Linked DNA regions of Homo sapiens. The protein of the gene in region 2 purifies or fractionates together with the protein of the main gene of each other region. This does not show direct contact. Each region holds a gene or a part of one and is shown on either strand. Other genes may lie near its edges.

The links.
Region 1: the proteins of SLC35A5 (region 2) and MGAT5 purify together in Homo sapiens (affinity purification with mass spectrometry; one large-scale study listed by BioGRID and IntAct). This does not show direct contact.
Region 3: the proteins of SLC35A5 (region 2) and CCDC126 purify together in Homo sapiens (affinity purification with mass spectrometry; one large-scale study listed by BioGRID and IntAct). This does not show direct contact.
Region 4: the proteins of SLC35A5 (region 2) and PI4K2B purify together in Homo sapiens (affinity purification with mass spectrometry; one large-scale study listed by BioGRID and IntAct). This does not show direct contact.
Region 5: the proteins of SLC35A5 (region 2) and STX12 purify together in Homo sapiens (affinity purification with mass spectrometry; one large-scale study listed by BioGRID and IntAct). This does not show direct contact.
Region 6: the proteins of SLC35A5 (region 2) and WDFY1 purify together in Homo sapiens (affinity purification with mass spectrometry; one large-scale study listed by BioGRID and IntAct). This does not show direct contact.
Region 7: the proteins of SLC35A5 (region 2) and P2RX4 purify together in Homo sapiens (affinity purification with mass spectrometry; one large-scale study listed by BioGRID and IntAct). This does not show direct contact.

What each region holds. Positions count from the first base shown.
Region 1 is NC_000002.12:134,341,072-134,344,571, forward strand, and holds part of MGAT5 (alpha-1,6-mannosylglycoprotein 6-beta-N-acetylglucosaminyltransferase A), read left to right. Parts: intron 1-518; coding exon 519-688; intron 689-3,500. UniProt on the Homo sapiens protein: Catalyzes the addition of N-acetylglucosamine (GlcNAc) in beta 1-6 linkage to the alpha-linked mannose of biantennary N-linked oligosaccharides.
Region 2 is NC_000003.12:112,565,045-112,568,544, reverse strand, and holds part of SLC35A5 (UDP-sugar transporter protein SLC35A5), read right to left. Parts: intron 1-3,500. UniProt on the Homo sapiens protein: Probable UDP-sugar:UMP transmembrane antiporter involved in UDP-alpha-D-glucuronate/UDP-GlcA, UDP-GlcNAc/UDP-N-acetyl-alpha-D-glucosamine and UDP-N-acetyl-alpha-D-galactosamine/UDP-GalNAc transport from the cytosol to the lumen of the Golgi.
Region 3 is NC_000007.14:23,642,382-23,645,208, reverse strand, and holds the end of CCDC126 (coiled-coil domain-containing protein 126 precursor), read right to left. Parts: intron 2,279-2,827; coding exon 2,094-2,278; 3' UTR 501-2,093; downstream 1-500.
Region 4 is NC_000004.12:25,237,033-25,240,532, reverse strand, and holds part of PI4K2B (phosphatidylinositol 4-kinase type 2-beta), read right to left. Parts: intron 1-3,500. UniProt on the Homo sapiens protein: Together with PI4K2A and the type III PI4Ks (PIK4CA and PIK4CB) it contributes to the overall PI4-kinase activity of the cell. This contribution may be especially significant in plasma membrane, endosomal and Golgi compartments.
Region 5 is NC_000001.11:27,797,219-27,800,718, reverse strand, and holds part of STX12 (syntaxin-12), read right to left. Parts: intron 1-3,500. UniProt on the Homo sapiens protein: SNARE promoting fusion of transport vesicles with target membranes. Together with SNARE STX6, promotes movement of vesicles from endosomes to the cell membrane, and may therefore function in the endocytic recycling pathway.
Region 6 is NC_000002.12:223,935,336-223,938,835, forward strand, and holds part of WDFY1 (WD repeat and FYVE domain-containing protein 1), read right to left. Parts: intron 1-3,500. UniProt on the Homo sapiens protein: Positively regulates TLR3- and TLR4-mediated signaling pathways by bridging the interaction between TLR3 or TLR4 and TICAM1.
Region 7 is NC_000012.12:121,216,629-121,220,128, reverse strand, and holds part of P2RX4 (P2X purinoceptor 4), read right to left. Parts: intron 3,175-3,500; coding exon of another isoform or gene 3,127-3,174; intron 2,996-3,126; coding exon 2,848-2,995; intron 1-2,847. UniProt on the Homo sapiens protein: ATP-gated nonselective transmembrane cation channel permeable to potassium, sodium and calcium. CTP, but not GTP or UTP, functions as a weak affinity agonist for P2RX4.

The DNA.
Region 1 (3,500 bases), on a different chromosome or scaffold from region 2:
ATATGTCTAGAATTTGTTTTGAGATAATCTAGAGGGGTTGGGAGAAAATGGGGGTATAGATTAAATATGCATTAATAATTGTTGAAGCTACACAGTAATTACTTTGGCATTGACTATATTGTCATGTTTGCCTTTCCATGTGTTTGAAATTTTCCATGGTAAGAGGTTAGAAGTATTTTAGCTGTAGATAAAAGACCAATAGTGTTAGAAAATACTGTCCTGTCTTACCTTCCTTTAATCCCGATTTTACAAATACACTGTGCTTTTAAAAGGTGGAATTATCTGTCCATACCTTGTACTCATAGCCATACCAAGGGCTGCAGTGATTTTGTTTCTCTAAAACCACAATGAAAAATGATTTCCTTCCTTTGTACCTTCTAGAAAAACAGCATTCCCCACCCTTTGATTTTGTTAGGATGTAAACATGACTTTGGGATTGGTCAATCATTTCTTGGCGCATTACTGTGCCTTTTGTATGTGGTTCAGTGTGAATCAGTATATGCCTCTTTGTTTTCCAGGTCCTCGTTCACCTGGGACTCCTGACCAAGGAATCTGGATTTAAGATTGCAGAGACAGCTTTCAGTGGTGGCCCTCTTGGTGAATTAGTTCAATGGAGTGATTTAATTACATCTCTGTACTTACTGGGCCATGACATTAGGATTTCAGCTTCACTGGCTGAGCTCAAGGAGTAAGGAGATTACTTTTCAATTTTAAAATCAGAATACAAAAAAGAAATTGTAAACTCTTAAAGTATTACCTCTATTAGTGTATAATTTTTTGTCGAGGAAAATGAAAGTGATAATTCACTAAACAGGAGATAAGAAGATTATTTTCAGGAGCTAAATACATACACTGTGAAAAGGATAATATGTTTTCATTGTCGCTGAAGGCTCCAGAGGCTTCATAAATGAATGCCAGAAAATTCAAACTAAGGAGCTTATTCTTTGCTATTACAGGTGCTTCCAACATCTGGAGCACAAAACATTATTGACTTTCCTAATTCCCTGTCTCTTGCTGAAATTCATACCACTGCCTACTCAACATCAATCTTGCTAAATCTTGAAACAGGGCAGGTTCCTGTTTGTAATTCAATTTGGATAGAATAAATTTCCTGAAAGCCCTGAGCTGATCCTTTTTCAATTAGCCAACTTTCAGCTGAGTCTGTTAACTCTACTTGGGTTTTTCATTTCACTGAAATTTGCTTCTAGCTCCAGCCCTCCTGTAATCCCTTCTATATTGGCATAGCTGGCTGAGCAGGGACGCTTCCATCCCCTGCAGTCACTTAGGATTACTGCCCATGGAGACTTCCCACCCAACAGTCAAGTTGCCATGTTGCTATATGTCGTATATTTCCAGAAGGAATACCTTGAATGAACATTCTAGAGCTCATTGAGATGAGAGACATGTTAAAACAATATATGGTGGCTCCCAGCACTTCGGGAGGCCAAGGTAGGTAGATCACTTGAGGCCAGGGGTTCAAGAACAACCTGGCCAACATGGTGAGACCCTGTCTGTACTAAAAATACAAGAATTAACCGGGTGTGGTGGCCCATGCCTGTAGTCCCATCTACTCGAGAGGCAGAGGCTGCAGTGAGCCGAGATCATGCCACTGCACTCCAGCCTGAGTGACAGAGCAAGTCTCTGTCTTAAAAAAAAAAAAAAAAAATTGGATACACAACCTACAAAGTGGCTGCATTTATACAGTTAGCAGTCACTCATCTGGTGTCTTCTGTAGGCTAGTTTTGGTGTCGGGCATACAGAGATGGCCAGCTTGTGGTCAAAGATCTTGCTGCCAATCTTTTGATAATTACAACTAATATATTAAAAATAATTACACAAATTCCAATTCTATTGGTGCTAATTGAGGTGTACGTGGATGCTAGAATGTAAGCACTGGGATTGCAGAAAACTGAGTATCGTTTGTCACTGTGTAGTGGGCACCTAGATAGTGCCTAGCAAGTAATGAGTACTCACATAACTATTTATAGAATGAATGAGTGAAGGAATAAATAGGTGAATGAATGAGTGGGTAGGTAAATAAATGGAGTGCTGTGGTAGAACCAGGGACAAGTACTGCCTGGGGAGGTCAGGAAAGACATGTTAGGGATTTATCAGTCAGAGACTGAATTTGATGGTCAAGGGAAAATTTGTTCAGTATGTCCTCACTTAACATCGTTGATAGGTTCTTGGAAACTAGGACTATAAATGAAATTATGTAAAATGAAACCAATTTTTTTCATCAACATTATAACCAGTGATTTGAAGGAAATGACTTTATTGGAGGGCCTGCTATCTGTTGTTTTGTTTAAAGTCCCAGTTTTCAGGAACCTATTGATGATGTTAAGTGAGGACTTAATTCTAGTAGTCTTTATGCACACTGGGGTCAGGGCTAGATGTGTTTTGTTTAAGAAGATAATTGTGGAAGCAGTATAGAGCAGTGGTCTTTAAATATATCTGTACGTTAGAACCACCTGGAGATCTTTGTATTTATTTCTTAATTTTGGGGGATCTTTTAAAAATCCCATAGACCATGCCATAGGCTAATTAGATCACAACCCTTGGGGGTAGGACACAGCCATAAGTATTTTGTGATGCCTCCAGGTAATTTCATTATACAGACAAGTTTGGGAAACACTGAACATGGGGTGGACCAGAGATCAGCAAACTATGGCTCAGCAGGCCAAATCAGCCCTCTGTCTTTTTTTGTAAATACAGTTTCATGGGAACACAGCCATGCCTATTGTTTACGTATCATATATAGCTGTCTTCATTCCACAACGGGAGAATGGGCCAGTTGTGACTGAAAATGTATGGCCTGCAAAGATGAAGATAATCACTGTCTGGCCCTTAACAGAAAGGGTTTTCTGACTCTTGGGAGGAAACTGGTTCTGCAGAACCTAGTTCTTTCATAAACAGGGGAGAGGAAGAAGGGTGGCTGATGTGGTGGTAGTACAGAGCTGTCAAGCAGAGTCCTGTTTGTGACTCTCGTCCTTTGAAGCAGGATATCCATAATTTGGTGAAGGATTATCATGGGGTGTTGCAGATAAGCAACAGTGGTGACTGATTAGTGAGTGGATGGCAGTAGGGTTAGCACTGACTCGTTCCTACACATGAAGTTGGCCTACCAATCAAGTACATCGTCACGCTCTGAGCGCAAGTATGGTTTTGTGTGGATGGATGCATGGGTGGGGGAAAGGGTGATTAAAAAAAACTGTAAACCATAGTGCTAGTTCTGTAATATGGTCAAGCGAGGAGGAAAAATTTGACATAAGAGAAAAAGTTAAGGAACAGTATGAGGCAGGTAGAAAGAAGTTAATACTATAGAGGCTAGAAATTGAAGACATTTAGAAAAAGGGGAGGGGAAGGTTAGTAAGGGTGCTAAGCGGTAAGAACAGGCTCTGGGGGAGAAAACTAAGTTATTGAGTATCTAGTATTCATTAGGCACTTTCTTTTCAATATCTCATTGTGAAGAACCCCTGAGAGACTGGTATCCAATGTTC
Region 2 (3,500 bases):
AAACCCACTGATGAGTTGGAAAGCTACATCCTAAACTGCAAATCAATAGAATTAGGAAGTGAGGTTTGGTTGGTATGACTTCATCTTAACTGTTACCTGTCTCTTCTAAATGCTTACAAACAACTCGCTTTACAATTTTGCCAAGGATAAACATAAACTTTATTGGGTACTATTTTCAGGAATGCATTTTCCCCACTTTTGAAGACATTTGCTTGCTTCTCTCAGTCACATTAAACCAAAATTGGCCAAATGTAGGGAAAAAAAGCCAAGTGGACACTGTCTATCCAGAACACTTTCTTCCACTCTCCTGTGGTTTCCCTTGACCTTCTCAAACTAATCAGAATCAATTCTTTATTCATCTCTGTTCTTATAGCACTACCTCTAAACCTCTGTGGCCCTACTTGTCTCATTGGAAGTGTGTGAAGTGAAATGGAATGGAAGATCCTTACAAGAAATGGACCATGTTTGTCACGTTCATATACCTGGCACTTAGCAGGCACTTAATAAATGTTCACCTGAATTTAAATATCTGCCTGTTCAACTTTACCCCATCATTCAAAGCATAGTCAAAACATCTCCTTTTTCTCAGTTAAATGCTAGACTTAACTCACACTCTGTTATCCTCCAATGATACTTCTCATGATCCATCATGATACACATAAGCCAACATGTGCATATAAGAAGGGGGGACTTTGGATTATAACTTTCAAACCCTTGTCACTGTTCTTTAGCTTGTTCTTGCTTTTCAGTGGTTTTCTTGCAGTCCTTTCACGGCCGATCCCAGACCATATGACAACATGGTATGTGATTTCCCTCCACACATCTCCTGCCCACACTAACATACCTTTCTACATGGCATTCACTGGTTTCCCTTCAGCCCCAGAGGAAGGGGCTAAGGCCCGACTATTAATCCAATGTCCCCTTTAAAACCCTCCCTTCTAGCTGGGTGCAGTGGCTCATGCCTGTAATCCCAGCACTTTGGGAGGCCGAGGCAGGTGGATCACTTGAGGTCAGGAGTGGCCAACATGGTAAAACCACGTCTGGTCAACATGGTGAAACCACGTATCTACTAAAAATACAAAAAAATAGCTGAGCATGGTGGCACATGCCTGTAATCTCAGCTATTCGGGAGGCTGAGGCAAGAGAATGCTTGAACCTGGGAGGTGGAGGTTGCAGTGAGCTGAGATCGCGCCAGTGCACTCCAGACAGAGCGAGACTCCAACTCAAAACAAATCTTCCCTTCTCAGATACTTGGCTCCATTTCCTTTGGCTTTAGTGTATCTTTTTGTTTGTTTGTCTGTTTTTGTTTTTTGTTTTTTGAGACAGAGTCTTGCTCTGTTGCCCAGGCTGGAGTGCAATGGCGTGATCTCAGCTCACTGCAAGCTCCACCTCCCAGGTTCACGTCATTCTCCTGCCTCAGCCTCCCAAGCAGCTGGGACTACAGGTGCCCGCCACCACGCCCGGCTAATTTTTTGTATTTTTAGTGGAGATGGGGTTTCACTGTGTTAGCCAGGATGGTCTTGATCTCCTGACCTCGTGATCCACCCGCCTCGGCCTCCCAAAGTGCTGGGATTATAGGCGTGAGCCACCACACCCAGTGTATCTTTTTTATCTTCCTCTCTACTAACTGGCTTACTGCCCTTGGCCTACAAACATGCTCAAAACTCTCGCATCTGAAAAACAAAATATAAAATACTACTTCCTCTAGCTACCATACCTTCTCCATCTCTCCCTGAAACAGTATCAACGTTCTTTATCTGCCCTTTACTCACTTTCCATTCAGGTCTTATCTCCAAGTAATCTGATATCTGAAACTAACTCCTTTCTGAGATTATCAAACATATTCTCATTCTTAACTCTAAAGGGTATCCTTTAATCTTTAGCTTATCATGATGTTGCCATTCTTTCTCAGTCTTCAAACTTTCTTTCCTTTCTATGAGTCATGTGCATTTAGTTATCCCATCTCGCTAATGATGTCTCCTTAATGCTTTTCTGGTGTCCGCATGTCACTTAAATGCTGGCATTCCTCGGAGTTTGGCCCTCTTTATTTTCTCATTCTGCATGAGTCCTCTCTCTGTTCCTTAAGTTTTAAATATCAATTTGACATTAATGTCCCCAAATCTATATTCTAGAACATTTAACTTATTGCCCACTATAAATATCCAAACGAAAACCTACCTCCTATTTATTCATATAATTGGTATTTCCCTCATGTGCATGACATGCCAGATACTGCAGAAAACTGCAGTAGGGACATAGCTCCTGACCTCTTCAACTACAATCTTTTCAAACTCTGCCCAACCTACTCTTCCTCCTAATAGTCTCCATCTCAGCTAAGAACAGCATCAATCCACTCAGCATTCAAACCAGAAACCTTGGAGCTATATGTTATCTTTTTTAATTTTCATATTCAATACATTCTCCAAATCCTGTCTTTTCTATGTTCTGAATACTCCTTATTTATCTTACTACTTCCAAAACACTAAGTTAGTCTTCATCACCTATGGCTTTACTTTGCAATAACCCCTTAACTGGCTATTGAGCTTCCTGTCTTTTCCACTGCCATCCAGCTACCATAACAGTCCCTCATTTTACTCTCCTATTTATAATCCTTCAAGTATCCCTTATCCCTCAGACTGGCCTAGAGACTAAGGTCCCAGCTCCTTACCATGGAATATGAAGTCCTTAAAAATCTGAGACTTACCAACCTCTCTCCAGCCAACCACTCCTTCTCTTTCTTCTGAGTCCTTAAACTTTTTTTTTTCTTTTTTCTTGAGACAGTTTTGCTCTGTTGCCCAGGCTGGAGTGCAGTGGCATGATCTCGGCTCACTGCAATCTCTGCCTCCCGGGTTCATTCTCCTGCTTCAGTCTCCCTCATAGCTGGGATTACAGGCACACGCCAACAAACCCAGCTAATTTTTTGTATTTCTAGTAGAGATGGGTTTCACCATGTTGGCCAGCCTGGTCTCAAATTCCTGACCTCAAGTGATCCGCCGGCCTTGGCCTCCTAAAGTGCTGGGATTACAGCATGAGCCACTGTGCCTGGCTACGAGTCCTTAAACTTTTTGCTTGGTAATTTCAAACTACATATTCTCACAACATATCCTGCTTTTTTATGCCTCTGTTCCCTTTTACAGGCTGTTGCCTCTGTTTTGAATCCCCTTGTTCACCTTGACTTCTAGTGGATCAACTGACTTCTAATCAGCGAAGTGTTCTCTGATCCATTTGAACTCCACATCATCCCCTACCAAACAGAATATATAACTTTATCCTCTAGACAATCTCTGCATCTTCAGGATATATCAATTATTGCAGTTATTATAATGGATTTTCATGATGTGTTTACATTCATGTCTCTCCTAATAAACTAAGTCTTGAGGACAAGGTCTATATCTTATGCACTTTGAACCTGCTGCTAATACTTAGCCTAGTGCCTGGCAGGTAAATGTTAACTGCAGTAGAGACTTGGGTACACATCTGACTCTCCAAGTAGTAGACCA
Region 3 (2,827 bases), on a different chromosome or scaffold from region 2:
AAGTGTTTCTTGAAAACTGAGACCTAAGTTATCATTAACTACCTGAAATAATGTTTAAATTACTTTTTAATTCATATATTTGCTTAAAGTAAACCCAAAGACACCCTGATAAAAGTTTGCAAGTTTTTAGTACCTTTAGTGATGCCCTCCGTGCTAATGTCCAAATTAAGATTAACTGAAGATATAAATACTAAGGCTTGACTTCTTAAAAATCAACAGTCTACTGTTGATTTTTAAATGAAGCTCATACCCATTTCAGATTATCAGTTTACTGTTGATTTTTAAGAAGTCAAGCCTTAGTTCTCCAATCTATCTCTGCACTCAGACTCTCCTACCCTAGTATCAAATGAGAGGCACTATTGGGTAACCTTCAATTTTTCTCTTTTGGAAAAGTTATCTGGAATTGAAACAAAACCGAATTTTTCTTAAGATTCCTTTTAACCATTTATCATTTATTAAATGCACAACCAACATTAAAGAAAAAAGACTGTAATACTTTGTAGGTAGAAATAATATATTTTATTTCATCCCTGAAAACAAAAACAAAAACAAAAATGTCCACATCTAATAGGAGAGACTAAACAATTATTCCAAACTTCTACCTGGCAATGGCATATAATTAATTTCTTCACATAAAGGTAGACAGTACAGAGAAGAGAAGAGAGATTTGGAAATCTGTCTTTCATGAAACAATATTTCACATATTTATTTTAATAAAATATTGTAATTATTGCTACATGTGGTAGCATATTATAATGACGAACAATACAATATCTAAATTCTATATAGTCTAAATCTAGAAGCTAGCTGCACTTAAGCAGTTACTATAGAGAATAAATACTATGAAATATAGGGCACCATGTGGCAATTAGATTTGCTACAAGGGAAATTTAAATAAAAGTATAATTTGTTTTATACTAGAATTACCCAAGATTAGGGTTCCCTGTGCTATATACAGCTTTTTTCCTGAAAAGATAGTCAATCTTCATAGTTTATATTTTAAATGTTCTTATTTTAAGTGGCCATTATATAAAATGAATATCTAATGCATCTGTTATACAAATTCAAAATTTCATAAAGGATACTCTTATATAATATAATGTTAACATTTTCCAAGCAATTTAATGCAGCACAAAAGTACCTTTATTATATACACCTGGCTAAAGTCCTCAAGAGTTCCATTCTCCAAAGTCCCTTCCTCCTAGACCAATATAATAAAAGCAAAATTAACCCAAATATGGAAATAATGTGCTTTCCTGATAGCATAGACACTCAAAGGATTAAACTTTTAAATGAACATTCATGTATGTGAAAAATCATGAATACTTTATTGTTACTCTCATCATAAAAATATCTTTTATTCTTCAATAAGTATAAGATTAGAGTTTACAACTATTTTAATGCTGTTATTAAATTGCCCCAATGTTTACGATAGGTAATGGACAGTGGCTGCTACCCATTTCAAGATTATACTCTTATAAGTGTAATTTTTAAAAATATACAATAATTAACCTTCAGTTATTCTGAAGGATAGTGCAAATCAATACATTCTTTGGGTCATGATTTCAAAACATTATTTTCAACATTATATTTCCTTTCTCTGCTCATAATTGGAATAACAAAATATAGTACAATAAGCACATTTTTTCAAATAGCCGTAGTCTAACAGTTACATCTATTGAGAACAAATGACAGAATGATTAAACATTCTTCACTTGTCCAAAAAACGTGTTATATACTTAAATAAATGTGTTATAGAAATGAATCCATGTTTTTCAGTGTTTTCATTTCAGCTTGATCTCAAACACAAAAGATTTATACAAAACTCACCTATCTGCTTACCACATCAACCAAATTACCAAATTCTCTTTAAGGACATAGTACAGCATTGAACAGACTTGCCTGAAAGCAAACAAATAACTTTAAAATTTTTATGTACAGAATTAGAGTTCCATGAATCCAGCATACTCCTTGAAAATGTGTAGAGCTTTTATTGTAAAGTATTGCTCTGTCCTAAGCCAGCAATTATAAAGCTTTTCTGCCATAGGATATAATCCACAGTGGATGGAGCAGCACAAGGTGATTTTCAACTGCTATCTGATACTGCCCGAGACATTCGTTCTTTTATTTGTGGTTACTGGCACCAAATTCCCACTAGTACCATTGGTGGTGTTGGCTGCTGAGCCATTCACAACAATATAGTCAACTTTGTTCTCCAGCTTCACCAATCGTTGCAAAATGTCATCCAGAAGGACAGCAATTGTTCTTTTCAGATCCGCTAGGGGAATAAATCAGAATAAAATTAACATTAATAGAGCTCTTCATTTTTGTGTTTTTACAGTTTGAAGGAAAAAGGTGAACAACTACTGGGTCATCTGAGGGAAAATGTACTAGAGAGAATGCACTCATACTACAAATAGGAAAAGCCTAATTTTTTTTTTTTTTTGAGATGGAGTTTCCCTCTGTCTCCCAGGCTGGAGTGCAGTGGCATGATCTCGGCTCGCTGCAGCCTCCACCTCCTGGGTTCCAGCGATTCTCGTGCCTCAGCCTCCTGATTAGCTGGGATTACAGGCGCCCACCACCACGCCCAGCTAATTTTTGTATTTTTAGTGGAGACAGGATTTTACCACGTTGGCCGGGCTGCTCTTGAACTCCTGACCTCAGGTGATCCGCACTCCTCGGCCTCCCAAAGTGCTAGGATTACAGGTGTCAGCCACTGCTCCTGGCCCTAATTTTTAAATCAACAACATCATTTACAGAGTTTCCAAAAGGAATTTCAGAGTTGTAAATGTGGGGGAAACTCTCGCTTTTCTAGTGCGATATAATG
Region 4 (3,500 bases), on a different chromosome or scaffold from region 2:
TCAAAGCTCAACTCCATTAGTGCAGAGCCATACAATTAATACCCCTACTTATAGGGTTAGGAATGGCTACTGCTACAGGAACCAGAATAGCCAGTTTATCTACTTCATTATTCTACTACCACACACTCTCAAAGGATTTTTCAGACAGTTTGCAAGAAATAACAAAATCTATCCTTACTCTACAATCCCAAATAGACTCTTTGGCAGCAGTGAATCTCCAAAACCGCCAAGGCCTAGACCTCTTCGCTGCTGAGAAAGGACTCTGCACCTTCTTAGGGGAAGAGTGTTATTTTTACACTAACCAGTACGAGATGCCACCTGGTGTTTACAGGAAAAGGCTTCTGAAATCAGACAATGCCTTTCAAACTCTTATACCAACCTCTGGAGTTGGGCAACATGACTTCTCCCCTTTCTAGGTCCTGTGGCAGCCATCTTGCTGTTACTTGCCTTTGGACCCTGTATTTTTAACCTTCTTGTCAAATTTGTTTCCTCTAGCATCGAGGCCATCAAGCTACAAATGGTCTTACAAATGGAACCCCAAATGAGTTCAACTAACAAATTCTACTGAGGACCCCTGGACCAACCTGCTGGCACTTTTACTGGCCTAGAGAGCTCCCCTCTGGAGGACACTAAAACTGCAGGGCCACTTCATTGCCCCTATCCAGCAGGAAGTAGCTAGAGCAGTCATTGGCCAAATTCCCAACAGCAGTTGGGGTGTCCTGTTTAGAGGGGGGATTGAGAGGTGACAGTGTGCTGGTAGCCCTTGCAGCCCTCGCTCACTCTCGGCGCCTCCTCGGCCTCGGCGCCCACTCTGGCCGCACTTGAGGAGCCCTTCAGCCCGCCACTGCACTGTGGGAGCCCCTTTCTGGACTAGCTGAGGCCAGAGCCAGCTCCCTCAGCTTGTGGGGAGGTGTGGAGGGACAGGTGTGGGCGGGAACTGGGGTTGCGTGTGGCACTTGCGGGCCAGCGCGAGTTCCGGGTGGGCATGGGCTTGGCAGGTTCCGCAGTCGGAGCGGCTGGCCGGCCCCACCGGCCCCGGGCAGTGAAGGGCTTAGCACCTAGGCCAGCAGCTGCAGAGGGTGCTGCTGGGTCCCCCTGGGCCGGCACCGTGCTCGCTTTCTCACTGGGCCTTAGCTGCCTCCCCGTAGGGCAGGGCTCAGGACCTACAGCCGGCCATGCCTGAGCCTCCCCCTGCTGCTGTGGGATCCTGCACAGCCCGAGCCTCCCCAACAAGCGCCACCCCCTGCTCCATGGTGCCCCGTCCCATCGACCACCCAAGGGCTGAGGAGTGTGGGCGCAAGGCACGGGACTGGCAGGCAGCTCCACCTGTGGCCCCAGTGTGGGATCCACTGGGTGAAGCCAGCTGGACTCCTGAGTCTAGTGGGGACTTAGAGAACCTTTATGTCTAGCTAAGGGATTGTAAATACACCAATCAGCACTCTGTATCTAGCTCAAGGTTTGTAAATGCACCAATCAGTGCTCTGTATCTAGCTAATCTAGTGGGGACTTGGAGAACTTTTGTGTCTAGCTCAGGGATTGTAAACGCACCAATCAGCACCCTGTCAAAATGGACCAATCAGCTCTCTGTAAAACAGACCAATCAGTGCTCTGTAAAATGGACCAATCAGCAGGATGTGGGTGGGGCCAGATAAGGGAATAAAAGCAGGCTGCCCGAACCAGCAGTGGCAACCTGCTCAGGTCCCCTTCCACACTGTGGAAGCTTTGTTCTTTCGCTCTTTGCAATAAATCTTGCTGCTGCTCACTCTTTGGGTCCACACTGCCTTTATGAGCTGTAACACTCACCGCAAAGGTCTGCAGCTTCACTCCTGAAGCCAGCGAGACCAGGAACCCACCAGGAGGAATGAACAACTCCAGACGCGCCAGCTTAAGAGCCATAACTCTCACCGTGAAGGTCGCAGCTTCACTCCTGAGCCAGCGAGACCACGAACCCACCAGAAGGAAGAAACTCCGAACACATCCGAACATCAGAAGGAACAAACTCCGAACACACCGCCTTTAAGAACTGTAACACTAACCGCGAGGGTCCATGGCTTCATTCTTGAAGTCAGTGAGACCAAGAACCCACCAATTCCGGACACAATAGCACCAGTAGTTAAAACCATTTCTGCTGAAATGGACTTTAGGGAAGTTATAAGAACTACCTTTATGAAATTAATCACTTTAATCACAGATATTGTTCAGCATACAGCATTCACCAAGAGACTGTGACAGGCTACCCTTTGTCTGTTCTGTTTTGGTTCAAATAACCAGTTTATTTTAACTGTATAGACCACATGATTGTGTTTCTCTCAAGTTAGCTGCTCAGTAATTTCAAAAATCAAATCTGTGGGTTGCCTGCATCAAGCATCTGAGGTACATCTTGTGTAATCTTACTCCAGGCTCCATCTTCTCATCTTTCTTCCTTTTAAATGATTTTCTTATTCTGTTCACATATTTATAAACCACCATGAATCATTAAATGACTTACAAATTCACATTTTCTTTTACTTTGGCAGCTCTTTGTGAATTCTAACACTGTTTTCTAACTGTTAGGCTCTCTAACAGGAGCTAAGCGCTCCTGATTTGTATTAACTGGGACCTTGGAGAAGTCACTTCACTTCTTTGTGCTTTTTCTTTTTTTCTTTTGAGACAGGGTCTTTTTCTGTAACCCAGGCTGGAGTATAGTGGTGCAATTATAGCTCACTGGACTCAGTGTAACCTGAAACTCATGGACTCAAGCAATCCTCCTGCCTCGGTCTCCTGAGTAGCTTGGACTACAGGTGTGCACCAAAGAGGCCTCCCAAAGTGTTAGGATTACAGGCGTAAGCCACCATGCCCAGCCTCTCCCTATACTTTCTTAAAATGAGAACAAGGCCAGGCATGGTGGCCTTGTAATCTCAGTGCTCTGGGAAGCCGAGGCGGGAGGATCATCTGAGGTCAGGAGTTCGAGACCAGCCTGACCAACATGGTGAAACCCCGTTTCTACTAAAAATACAAAATTAGCCAGGCATGTGCCTGTAATCCCAGCTACTTGGGAGGGTGAGGCAGGAGAATCGCTTGAACCTGGGGAGTGGAGGTTGCAGTTAGCCGAGATTACGCCATTACAATCCAGCCTGGGTGACAGGAATGAAACTCTGTTCCCCCACTGCCACCCCTACAGCCACCCACTGCCAAAAACAAAAAAAAAAAACAAAAATAGTACTCACATCACAGGGTTGGTTATGAATTAATATATATGAAGCATACAGAACTATGCCTAGCGCATATTAACTGCTATGTAGGCATTAGCTGTCATTACTACCGAATTCACTGATTAAAATAACTAGAACAAGGAATGCACTAATCCTTCCACTTTGACACTGATCCAACAACACTATGGTTTATGCTGTTTGTAGGCTTTGTTAAATGCCTTGTTGAAGATAACAGACATATGACATTCTTCCACTGGCTAAAGTACATAAACCTCTTGCTTATATAAGTAAGAGTTAAGCATCATAAAT
Region 5 (3,500 bases), on a different chromosome or scaffold from region 2:
GACAAAATCCTATCTCTACAAAAAATAAAAAAATTAGCCGGGCGTGGTGGTACACATCAGCTACTCAGAGGCTGGGGCAGGAGGATCATTTGACCCTGGAAGGTTGAGGCTGCAGTGAGTTGAAATCATGCCATGTACTCCAGCCTCAGCAATAGAGTGAAACTCTGTCTGAAAAAACAAAACAAAACACACACACACACACACACACACACACACACACACACACACACCACATACTGACAGCATTGTCCTGTTCTATGAACACAGAAGTAAAAACTCACCCCTGACCTCAAACAGCTGTCTATTTGTAAATAAAGGATATAGACAGACAAGTAACAAAGTTATTATAAATAACTGCTATATCCAATTGGTACTACAGGAGTTCAGAGGGCAGGAATAATCAGTAAGAACTCAAGCGGCCAAGAAAGGCCTCAAGAGAAGGTGGACAGTGAAGTAAGAGGAAGGCATGAATAAGCAGAAAGAAGGGGTAAGGCAAATCCAAGCAAGAGAATAGTGTGAGCAAAGGCATGGTGGCAGAACTTGAAGAGGATCTCTAGACAGACTGTTTGGTTGGAACTACACGTTTAGTAATGAGAGTAGCTAAAATACAAAATTGGAAAGTTAAGAAAGGGGCCAACCACAGCAGGTTTTAAATGCCAAGCTAGGCCGGGCGCAGTAGCGCATGCCTGTAATCCCAGCACTTTGGAAGGCAAGGTGGGTGGATCACTTGAGGGCAGGAATTATTCAAGACCGTCCTGGCCAACATGGTGAAACCCCATCACTACTAAAAATAGAAAAAATTACCTAGACATGGTGGCAGGCACCTGTAATCCCAGCTACTTGAGAGGCTGAGGCAGGAGAATTGCTTGAACCAGGAGGTGGAGGTTGCAGTGAGCTGAGATCGTGCCATTGCACTCCAGCCTGGGCAACACATGTGAAACTCCGTCTCAAAAAACAAAACAAAACGCCAAGCTATTGGGAGGATGAGGCAGGCAGATCACGAGGCCAGGAGATGGAGACCATCTGGCTAACATGGTGAAACCATGTCTCTACTAAAAATACAAAAAATTAGCCAGGCGTGGTGGCGTGCGCCTGTAGTCCTTTGCCACTTGGGAGGCTGAGGCAGGAGAACTGCTTAAACCTGGAAGGTGGAGGTTGCAGTGAGCTGAGATCGCGCCACTGCACTCCAGACTGAGCAAAAGAGCCAGGTTCTGTCTCAAAAAAAAAAACAAAAAAAAAAACAAGCTAATGAGTTTGGGGTTCAACCTCTAAAGAACAAAGAGCAATGAAGATTTTTGAGCAAGAAACATCATGGGTACAAAATAGTAACTTAGAAAAATTAGTCTGTGATGAGACCTGGGTCACCGTTTACACAAAGGTGGAATGGAAAAAAGAAACAAGTCAAACAGAACACTAATTCAATAGTCTAGGTTTAAGGTTAGGAGGACACAGTATCAGTAATAAAATCATAAAGAAATGAATTTAAGAAACATTTTGACTGGTGGTGGGGAAAGAGAGATAAAGTCAAGAATGACTGAAATTTCAAACCTGGAAGAGTGATGGTAATACTAAAAGCAAATTTAGATGAGCAACCCTTTTCTTCTGAGATTTTTATTTTTGCATAAACAAAATTATAACAATAACGGGGAGGACATCATTCCCTAACCTTACCGTGCAAAAATATTATCATAACTTTTAAATACATCATAAACATTTTCCATGTTACCATACTCTTCACAATTATGTTTTTGTTTTTTTTTTTTTTGAGACAGGGTCTTGCTCTGTCACCCAAGCTGGGGTGCAGTGGTGTGATCTCAGCTCACTGCAGCCCCAACCTCCCAGACTCAAATGATCCTCTCACCTCAGCCACCTGAGTAGCTGGGACTACAGATGTGTACCACGATGCCTGGCTAATTTTTTTTTTTTTTTTTTTTTTTTGAGACGGAGTCTCGCTCTGTCGTCCAGTCTGGAGTGCAGTGGCACGAGTTTTTTTTTTTTTCTTTTTTTGAGATGGAGTCTCGCTCTGTCACCCAGGCTGCAGTGCAGTGGCGCGATTTTTTTTTTTTTTTTTTTTGAGAGGGAGTCTCGCTCTGTCACCCCGGCTGGAGTGCAATGGCACAATCTCAGCTCACTGCAACCTCCGCCTCCTGGGTTCAAGCAATTCTCCTGCCTCAGTCTCCCGAGTAGTTGGGATTATAGGTGGCCACCATCACGCCTGGCTAATTTTTGTATTTTTAGTAGAGATGGGGTTTTGCCATGTTGGTCAGGCTGGTCTCAAACTCCTGACCTCAGGTGATCCGCCCACCTCGGCCTCCCAAAGTGCTGGGATTATAGGCATGAGCCACCGTGCCTGGCTAATTTTTGTAGAGATGTTGCCCGGGCTGGGTCTCAAACTCCTGTACTCAAGCAATCCACCCGCCTCAGCCTCCCAAAGTTCTGGGATTACAGGTGTGAACCACTGTGCCCGGCCATGATCTTTAATCGCTTACATATATTCCATCAAGTTGACCTAAATTTTATGTAAATAATCCTTCTAGATTTTTCACAGTTATTAAATATTATAAAGTAAGCCCCAATGTAATGGCTAATATTTATATAGTGCTTAAATTGTACCAGTACTACTGTAAGTGCTTTACATAATAATTCATTTATCTATACAATGACCTATAAATTAGGCATTATTATAGTCCCAACTTTACACATCAGAAAACCAAAGCACCACAGAGGCTATGTAATTTGCCCAGGATCACACAGTAAGTGACAAAGATGGATTTAAATCCAGGAAATTTGGCTCCAGAGTATATAGACTCTGTGTGTGTGTGTGTGTGTGTGTGTGTGTGTGTTTACCTTCAGAATTTTTTTTCCCCTTAGGGCTAATTAGCATGAGTGAGAATATTAGGTCAAAAGGCACAAACTTTTCTGTGATGTTAAGTATTGTCAATGAACTTAGTTAAGGGGTTTGGGAGAAACATGAGAAACTCAGTATAAGACAAGTTTTATATGAAGGTAGTTTATTTCAGGAGGAGATGTCAGAACATGAATTGAAGATATGGGCCACGCACTTAGAGGTGAAGGGGTTAGATTGGAAAAAGATCTGAGGTCATGATCATAAAGGTGAAAGGGAGGTCATAAAAGCAGGTGACTCCTAAGGAGAAAGCATACAGTGAAATAATTCGAGGATCAATGGCACAACCTTGGGGCATGCCCACTCTTAGGAGGATATGAAGTCCGGGAAGGAGGCTGACTCAACCTGGGGATCTCCAGAGTTGGGGGACACAATGAAAGAGAATCATGGCAAGAAGAAAGTTTCAGGGCAGACGGGATAGGCAAGAGGATCAAAGGAAACAGAAAAAAAGTGAATAGGCCAGGCATGGTAGCTCACACCTGCAATCCCAGAACTTTGGAAGGCCGAGGCAGGCGGATCACTTGAGGTCAGGAATTCAAGACCAACCTGGCCAACGTGGCAAAACCCTGTCTCTGCTAATAATACAAAAATTAGC
Region 6 (3,500 bases), on a different chromosome or scaffold from region 2:
AGTGTTTTGAGCAAAGTAGTATGTGGTTGACAAAGAAAAATGAATAAAGAGATTATTTCACCATGAAGTATGACAAAAATACATCATGAAATCAGTATATATGTGCTAATAATGTCTTAACAACTCTCAGAAAGATTTGCTGAGCATACTTTGTAGAGAGGGAAGATGAATACCTAAATTCTAGAAACAAGTATCATTCATTATATTACCATCTGCTTCTTAGGAAAGAACTAGCAGATTATTAAAGCTAAACACAGCAGAGGAAATGTCTACTGTGCAGAAATGGTTAAGTCTGTATCATTCAACCAGTAGCTAGTTATGCAGTACCTGGTGGAGTACAGACTATGTGGGAAGATAAGATGAATAAACACAAAGCAACAGGAACTAATACCTGATTGTAATTAACTAGGCATCATCAGTAATATACTAGGAGTGTTGAAGGAAGCTCAGAAAGGACAGAGAATGATGGGCTGGGAAGAATTATTCAATGGAGGAGGTGGAACTTGAAGTGGATCTAGGAGATGAAGGAGGGTCTGAATACAGGAGAGAGGGCAAGTGAGGTTCCTGGTGAGGGAGGCAAAGGCACCCAGGTGGGAAATGTACCAGGTGTGAGTGGGACAGAACACACACTGACTTCACTGGACACAAAAGAACCATAATAAATGAGAGATAGAAGGTGGAAATAAAGCTTAGCAGGGAGCAGTTATGGGGTTCCCAAAGTCCTTTTTTTTTTTTTTTTTTTTGGGGACAGAGTCTTGCTTTATTGCCCAAGCTGGAGGGCAGCAGCATGATCTTGGCTCACTGCAACCTATGCCCCTTGGGTTCAAGCAATTCTCGTGCCTCAGCCCAGCTTCTTGGGAGGATTACAGGCATGAGCCCCTACACCTGGCTAATTTTTGTATTTTTAGTAGAGACAGAGTTTGACTATGTTGGCCAGGCTGGTCTCTAACTCCTGGCCTCAAGCAATCTGCCTGCCTCAGCTTCCCCATGTTCTGTGATTACAGGCATGAGCCACTGCGCCCGGCCCCCAAAGTCCTTTTACAGACATGATTAAATAAGGAGCTAATGAAAGGTCATGAGCAGGAAAAAGACACAATAAAAGCCTAGTTAAAGATAGGAGATTAGTGGGACAGATCCAAGTACAGTATGCTGGAACTCAGGGAAGCCAGTTAATAGGCTTTGAAAAATGAGGTTTAAAAGATGATGAGGACAAACACTAGGGTAATTATGGGCAGGTGGGCAGAAAAGAGTTCCCACAGCAGGCCTGCTGCTGCTGTCCTTAGAAAGTCTTGCTTGCAAGGTTGGCCCTTGGCAGGTGTCTGGGACCTTGTTTATCCAGAGGGGACCTCACCATTCCCTAACTCCTAAGAATGGCTCACTGTGCTTCATGCCTGTATAAAATATGTGGTTTATGTTGACCACCTACCTTCCTTCTGAGAGTTTGGAATTTTGGAACATTAGCCAAGGGCACCTACATGACCAGCCTCTAACACTGAATAAAGTCTCTAAGGAGCTTCCCTGATAAACAATATTTCACACATGTTGTCTTAATTCAATCTGAATTAGCCTGTCCTGTGACTCCACAGGAAGAGGACTCTTGGAAGCCTTGTGTCTGGTTTCCTCTGGATTTCACCCCATGTGCTGATTTTGTTTTGCGTCTTTTGGCTATGATAAATCACAGCCATGCGTATGACTATAATGTGTCAATCTTTCTAGTGAATCAATGAACCCGATCTTGAGGATCTCAAATATAGCAGGGGAAAGATGTCTAAGTGAAACTAATCACTGACATGACCTGCAAGTAACCAAATATGGAAATAAAGAAAAGGCATGACTCAAAGGCAGTTCTAAGAATTTAGGATTGTAAATAACCCCTCAAATGGTATTGTCCTATTCAAACAGGAAAAATTTTTTTATTTTCACTTATTCACGTGCACACACAAACATGCATACAAAGTAGAAACATATTACTCTTTCGTAAGATTAAAGTAACAAAATGCAAAATAAGTGGAAATGAAAATAATAATAGCTAACACTTGTATAGTGCTTTCTCTGTCCCAGTCTTTAAGATTAAAGCAATTAAATGGAAAATAAATGGGAATGAAAACAATAACAACTAACACTTGCATAATGTTTTCTCTGTGCTAGGCACTGTTCCACGTGGTTTAATTCACCTAATCCTCACAAAACTCTGTAAAGCAGGTACAAAACGGACTCATGTCCATTTTGCACATGAGAAAACTGTGATACAGTGAGGTTAAATAACTTGTCTAAGATCACAGGGCTGGGATTCAAACTGAGGCATTCTGGCTCCCAAGCCTTTGTTCTTAACTATGCTATAAAAAGAAAATGATTGTAACAATGAAGGATCACCCTAACAATACAGGAGTAAATGTGTGGGGTGGCCACCCAGGCTTCCTGCCTTCTCAAGTCTTCAGTTTATTTTATAACACAAATTAAAGTCTACTTTTAGGCTCTGCATGACAATGAAAATACAGCAGTTAACATCCTGGTTTTCTGTATTAACTAATGAATTCCAGCTATGCCAGCCTTCCTCCCAGGCATAACACTTAAAAATCAAGTTATTTATTTAAGATTGTTTCTATGTGAACAATTGGTAAATACACAAATTTTTCCCCAAACCATCTTAATAAACTTAGATATATCTAAGTGGAAGCAAATATATTACATATTTGGTATAATTTTTAAAAAAGGAAAATGCTAAAAAACATCTAAAAGTTGGTTTTCTGTAATCTTTACTCTTTCCCAGCCTAAGTGCAACATCTCAAAACATTTTAAATCACATGAGATTTATCTTTAACTTGGGACAAACAAAATTGAGTTTCCTGCAGAAACCAATCTTGGCCTACGAGCCCCTAATGCAACAGTATAAGTACGTCCATCCACAAACTCTATTTCTCAAAAGTGAAGACAGTAGGCCTATAGCCTTAACTTATTTATAAGGCTTTATAAAGCTTTTACCTTTTAAAAATTGTATCATTCAATCAACTGACTGTCTACATTTTTGGTGCAGTCCACAGCAAAAAAGTCCAAAAAGCAAACATACTGGTTCCTACTGTCTCACCATTTTAGTTCCGCTCTGAAAGCAGAGTCTTATTTTCTGTTTCCCCTACCAGGAAAGTCACCACTGTAGTTCAAATTCTTAAACTTAAATTTAAATTAAAGAGCTTAAGGTAATTATTACTTCAGCAAAATACTAATGACTTCATACAAGAAGTAGTACCATTTTCTATTAACCATTCACGAGACATTAATCCATAAAGGTTTCTAAGCAGAACCCTAAGCTGACCACCCAAACCACTAATGACCTGTGACTCCCAGGTGTAATGGCATTAAGCTTTGATATTCCACATTGGCTTAATACTCTTTGGAGTGCTGACCGTATCTAGCTTTGTCATATGCAGTTTGATTACAGTGAACTAGGTGGCTATCTGTGAATGACCCCAGGTAAATATATCCCAGAAGGTGACAAAAAAAAA
Region 7 (3,500 bases), on a different chromosome or scaffold from region 2:
AACATTCTAGAGAAGACTCGGTCAGGGTCAGCAAGTGACATTTCTCTTTGAAAAGGTTCTGTTTCCTCCTTATATGTATAAAGGTGCCAAATAATTGATTTAGAGTTTCTGGAAAGCAATTTGCTAGGGATGAGACTGAAGAATTGCTGATAATGACCTCCTCATATAAGGAATAAAAGGCAAAGACCCCAAAAGATTCTAGTTGGATCCTCCTCTCATTGGGGGCTGGTGTCCATCCATCTAATCTAATCTATCTATTATCTGTCTATCTATCTATCTATCTATCTATCTATCTATCTAATCTATCCTATATCTATCATCTGTTTTCTATTTATCGATTATCTATCACCTATCTAATCTATCCTATCATCTGTCATCTATCCTATCCCTTTTCTTTCTTTTCTCTTCTCTTTTCTTTCTTTCCCTTTCTTTCTCCTATCCTATCATTTATCTATTCTTTCTTTCTTTCCATCTATCTATCTATCTATCTATCTATCTATCTATCTATCTATCCATCCATCCATCCATCCATCCATCCATCCATCCATCCACCACCCATCCAATCAAGATGGGGTCTCACTATATTGCCCAGGCTGGTCTTGAATCCTGAGCTCAAGTGATCCTCCTGCCTTGGCCTCCAAAAGTGCTGGGACTACAGGCGTAAGCCACTGCGCCTGGCTGGGCCCAGGCATTTTAAAAGGAGATGCCCAAAGCTTTTAGCATTTCACACTCCTGAGGATAACAGTCAGTAGTGGGAGCCATCTTGGGGATCAGGGCAACTCAGAAACCAACCAGTCTGTAGACATCCCCAACCCCACGGTCTGACAAGTGGTGGAAGCTCTAGAAATAGCTGGCGTCCTCCAAAGGCCTAGGGCAAACTATGTTGGGAGACAAGGAGAAGGCCACAGGAGGAGGCGTGAGGATGTGGCATGAGCTGCAGCCTCTCTCCCGCCACCTGTCACGTTCCCAGGTGTTCAATGTACAAACACACTCTGCATTTGGTGTTAGAGAAGGCCGCTCCTACGACTCTCCTGAGTTATACTTGGAACAATCCAGTATGGTCTACTTTTCGTTTCCTATCTCTCCTTCTTTCTCTCTCTTTTAGAGTTGGGGTCTTGCTCTGTTGCCCTAGCTGGAGTGCAGTGGCGTGATCACAGTTCACTTCAGCCTCAAACTCCTGGGCTCAAGTGATCCTTCTGCCTCGGCCTCCAAAAGTGTTGAGATTACAGGCATGAACCACCACATCTGGCCTGTTTCCTATCACTTATCTACTTCAAATTAAGGGTAATTTCAGTCTGGAGATGAGCCAAGGGGCTGCAAATAGATGACTGTGTTCCATCTACAAAGAACACAGACGTCGTGAAAGCTCATGAGGAAAGCCCTGGGGAACTCACACGGCCCCCGCCCAGATCCACCACGGAAGGCTGAGTTGTGGGGTGCTCCTTTCCACCAAGGGACAAAAGCGGGGCTTGTGCCCTTCCTCATCTGCCCAGTAAACACACCGAGCATGACATTCCCAGAGCTCACCGGGACAAGGCTATGCCTGCACAGGAGGCAACCGTCTCTCTGCTGAGACAGGTACATGCTAACAGGACTGCCCCCTCCAGCCAACTGCAAATCCCCTGTTCCACTTGATCTTTTTTTTTGAGACGGAGTCTTGCTCTGTCACCAGGCTGGAGTGCAGTGGCACTATCTCGGCTCACTACAACCTCCGCCTCCCAGGTTCAAGAGATTCTCCTGCCTCAGCCTCCCTAGTAGCTGGGACTACAGGCACCCACCACCACACCCCACTAATTTTTGTATTTTTAGTAGACAGGGTTTCACCATGTTAGCCAGGATGGTCTCAATCTCTTGACCTCATGATACACCGACCTCGGCCTCCCAAAGTGCTGGGATTACAGGCATGAGCCACCGCACCTGGCCCTTCCTCCTGACTTTTATGGCTCATTAGCTCGGTCTCCTCTCTGGGGACCCCACAAGACCCTTCTCTTGAGAAGGCAGGGGGAAGAACACACCTGAAGAAAGAGTTTCTGGAGTTCTTGTTTTCCCTGGCAAGAGCTCTGAGCCAAGAGTTGGCAGCTTATCTCTACTGGTCGCCCTCGGTCCCTTAGCACATAGGCCATCTGGAGGGCTATGTCGGGTTTGACTGTGTGGTGCAGAGCTGTTACCAGGACTAAAGAGTCAATGTTTAACTTGGAGCTTTGCAGATTAACAGCCTGAAGACTAGTATGCAGCAGTAAACAATGTCTTCCCTTCCTTTCGCTCCCGATGGAGTCCTGTGCTGCTGTCTCTGTTTCCTTCTTGTTTGGGTTTTGGTCTCTAATGGTCTCTAATTCTTTTCTTTTTTTTTCTTTTTTTTTTTTTTTATAGAGATGGGGTTTCACCACATTGCCCAGGCTGGTCTCAAACTCCTGGGCTCAAGGTATCTGCCCGCCCCAGCCTCCCAAAGTGCTGGGATTACACACGTGAGCTACTGTGCCCGGCCTAAAGTTTTTACACTGTCTGAAAAGATTTACCTCGTGTATTTGGGACAATAATGCAAACCCAAAATGTGGAAAGGTGATATTTCCACTTGAATTTCTATCAGGATTTAAGACATTTGTTTTCTCATCTTTCAGGGCTTTCAGCCTGCCATGCTTTCAAGCTGAGGAACCACAGCTGCCTGGATACACTCTGTTAGATCCTAAGCTGAAAAGAGATCTGGCTGCACCGTTTTCTTGGACTAAAACAATCATTCTGGGCATTGGTGATGTCAGGACTCAGGCCACGTCAATCATTAATCAAGTGTGCAAAGTCAGTAAAGAGCAAGGTGTCAGTGTTAGACAGAAGACACAGTGGGAGACACACCTGAGCTGGTATCACATAATCCGCCACATCCCAGATCCGGAATCCAAGTTTAGAAGTGTTGGTCACAGCCACGCCCTTGACCTTGGTCGTAACGGAGCTGACCACGGAGTCAGTTTCCTGGTAGCCCTTTTCCCACACAAACACCCACCTATAAAATAAAACAGGCCTCTTAAATTGCCATTAGGATTCAATGGATTTGAATTGATGGGGAAGCTTCTGCTGGCCAGTGGCTGGAAGTACGATGTTGACTAATTACATGACTTTCTACAAGCTACGTACCTTCTAGGGGACTCCATTTCCACTTCTGCCAAATGGGGATGGTAGCACCTAAACCACAGGAGGGTTTGCGGGAAATAAATGAGATGGTGCAGGTAAAGCACTCAGCACACTGATGGCACAGAGAAAACGCTCGATGAATACTGTCTTTATTACATTTGAGCATTTTCTCTTTTTTTTTTTTTGAGACGATGTTTCGCTCTTGTTGCCTAAGCTGGAGTGCAATGGTGTGATCTTGGCTCACTGCAACCTCCGCCTCCCGGGTTCAGGCAATTCTCCTGCCTCAGCTTCCCAAGTAGCTGGGATTACAGGCATGCGCCAACACGCCTGGCTAATTTTGTATTTTTAGTAGAGACGGGGTTTCACCATGTTGGCCA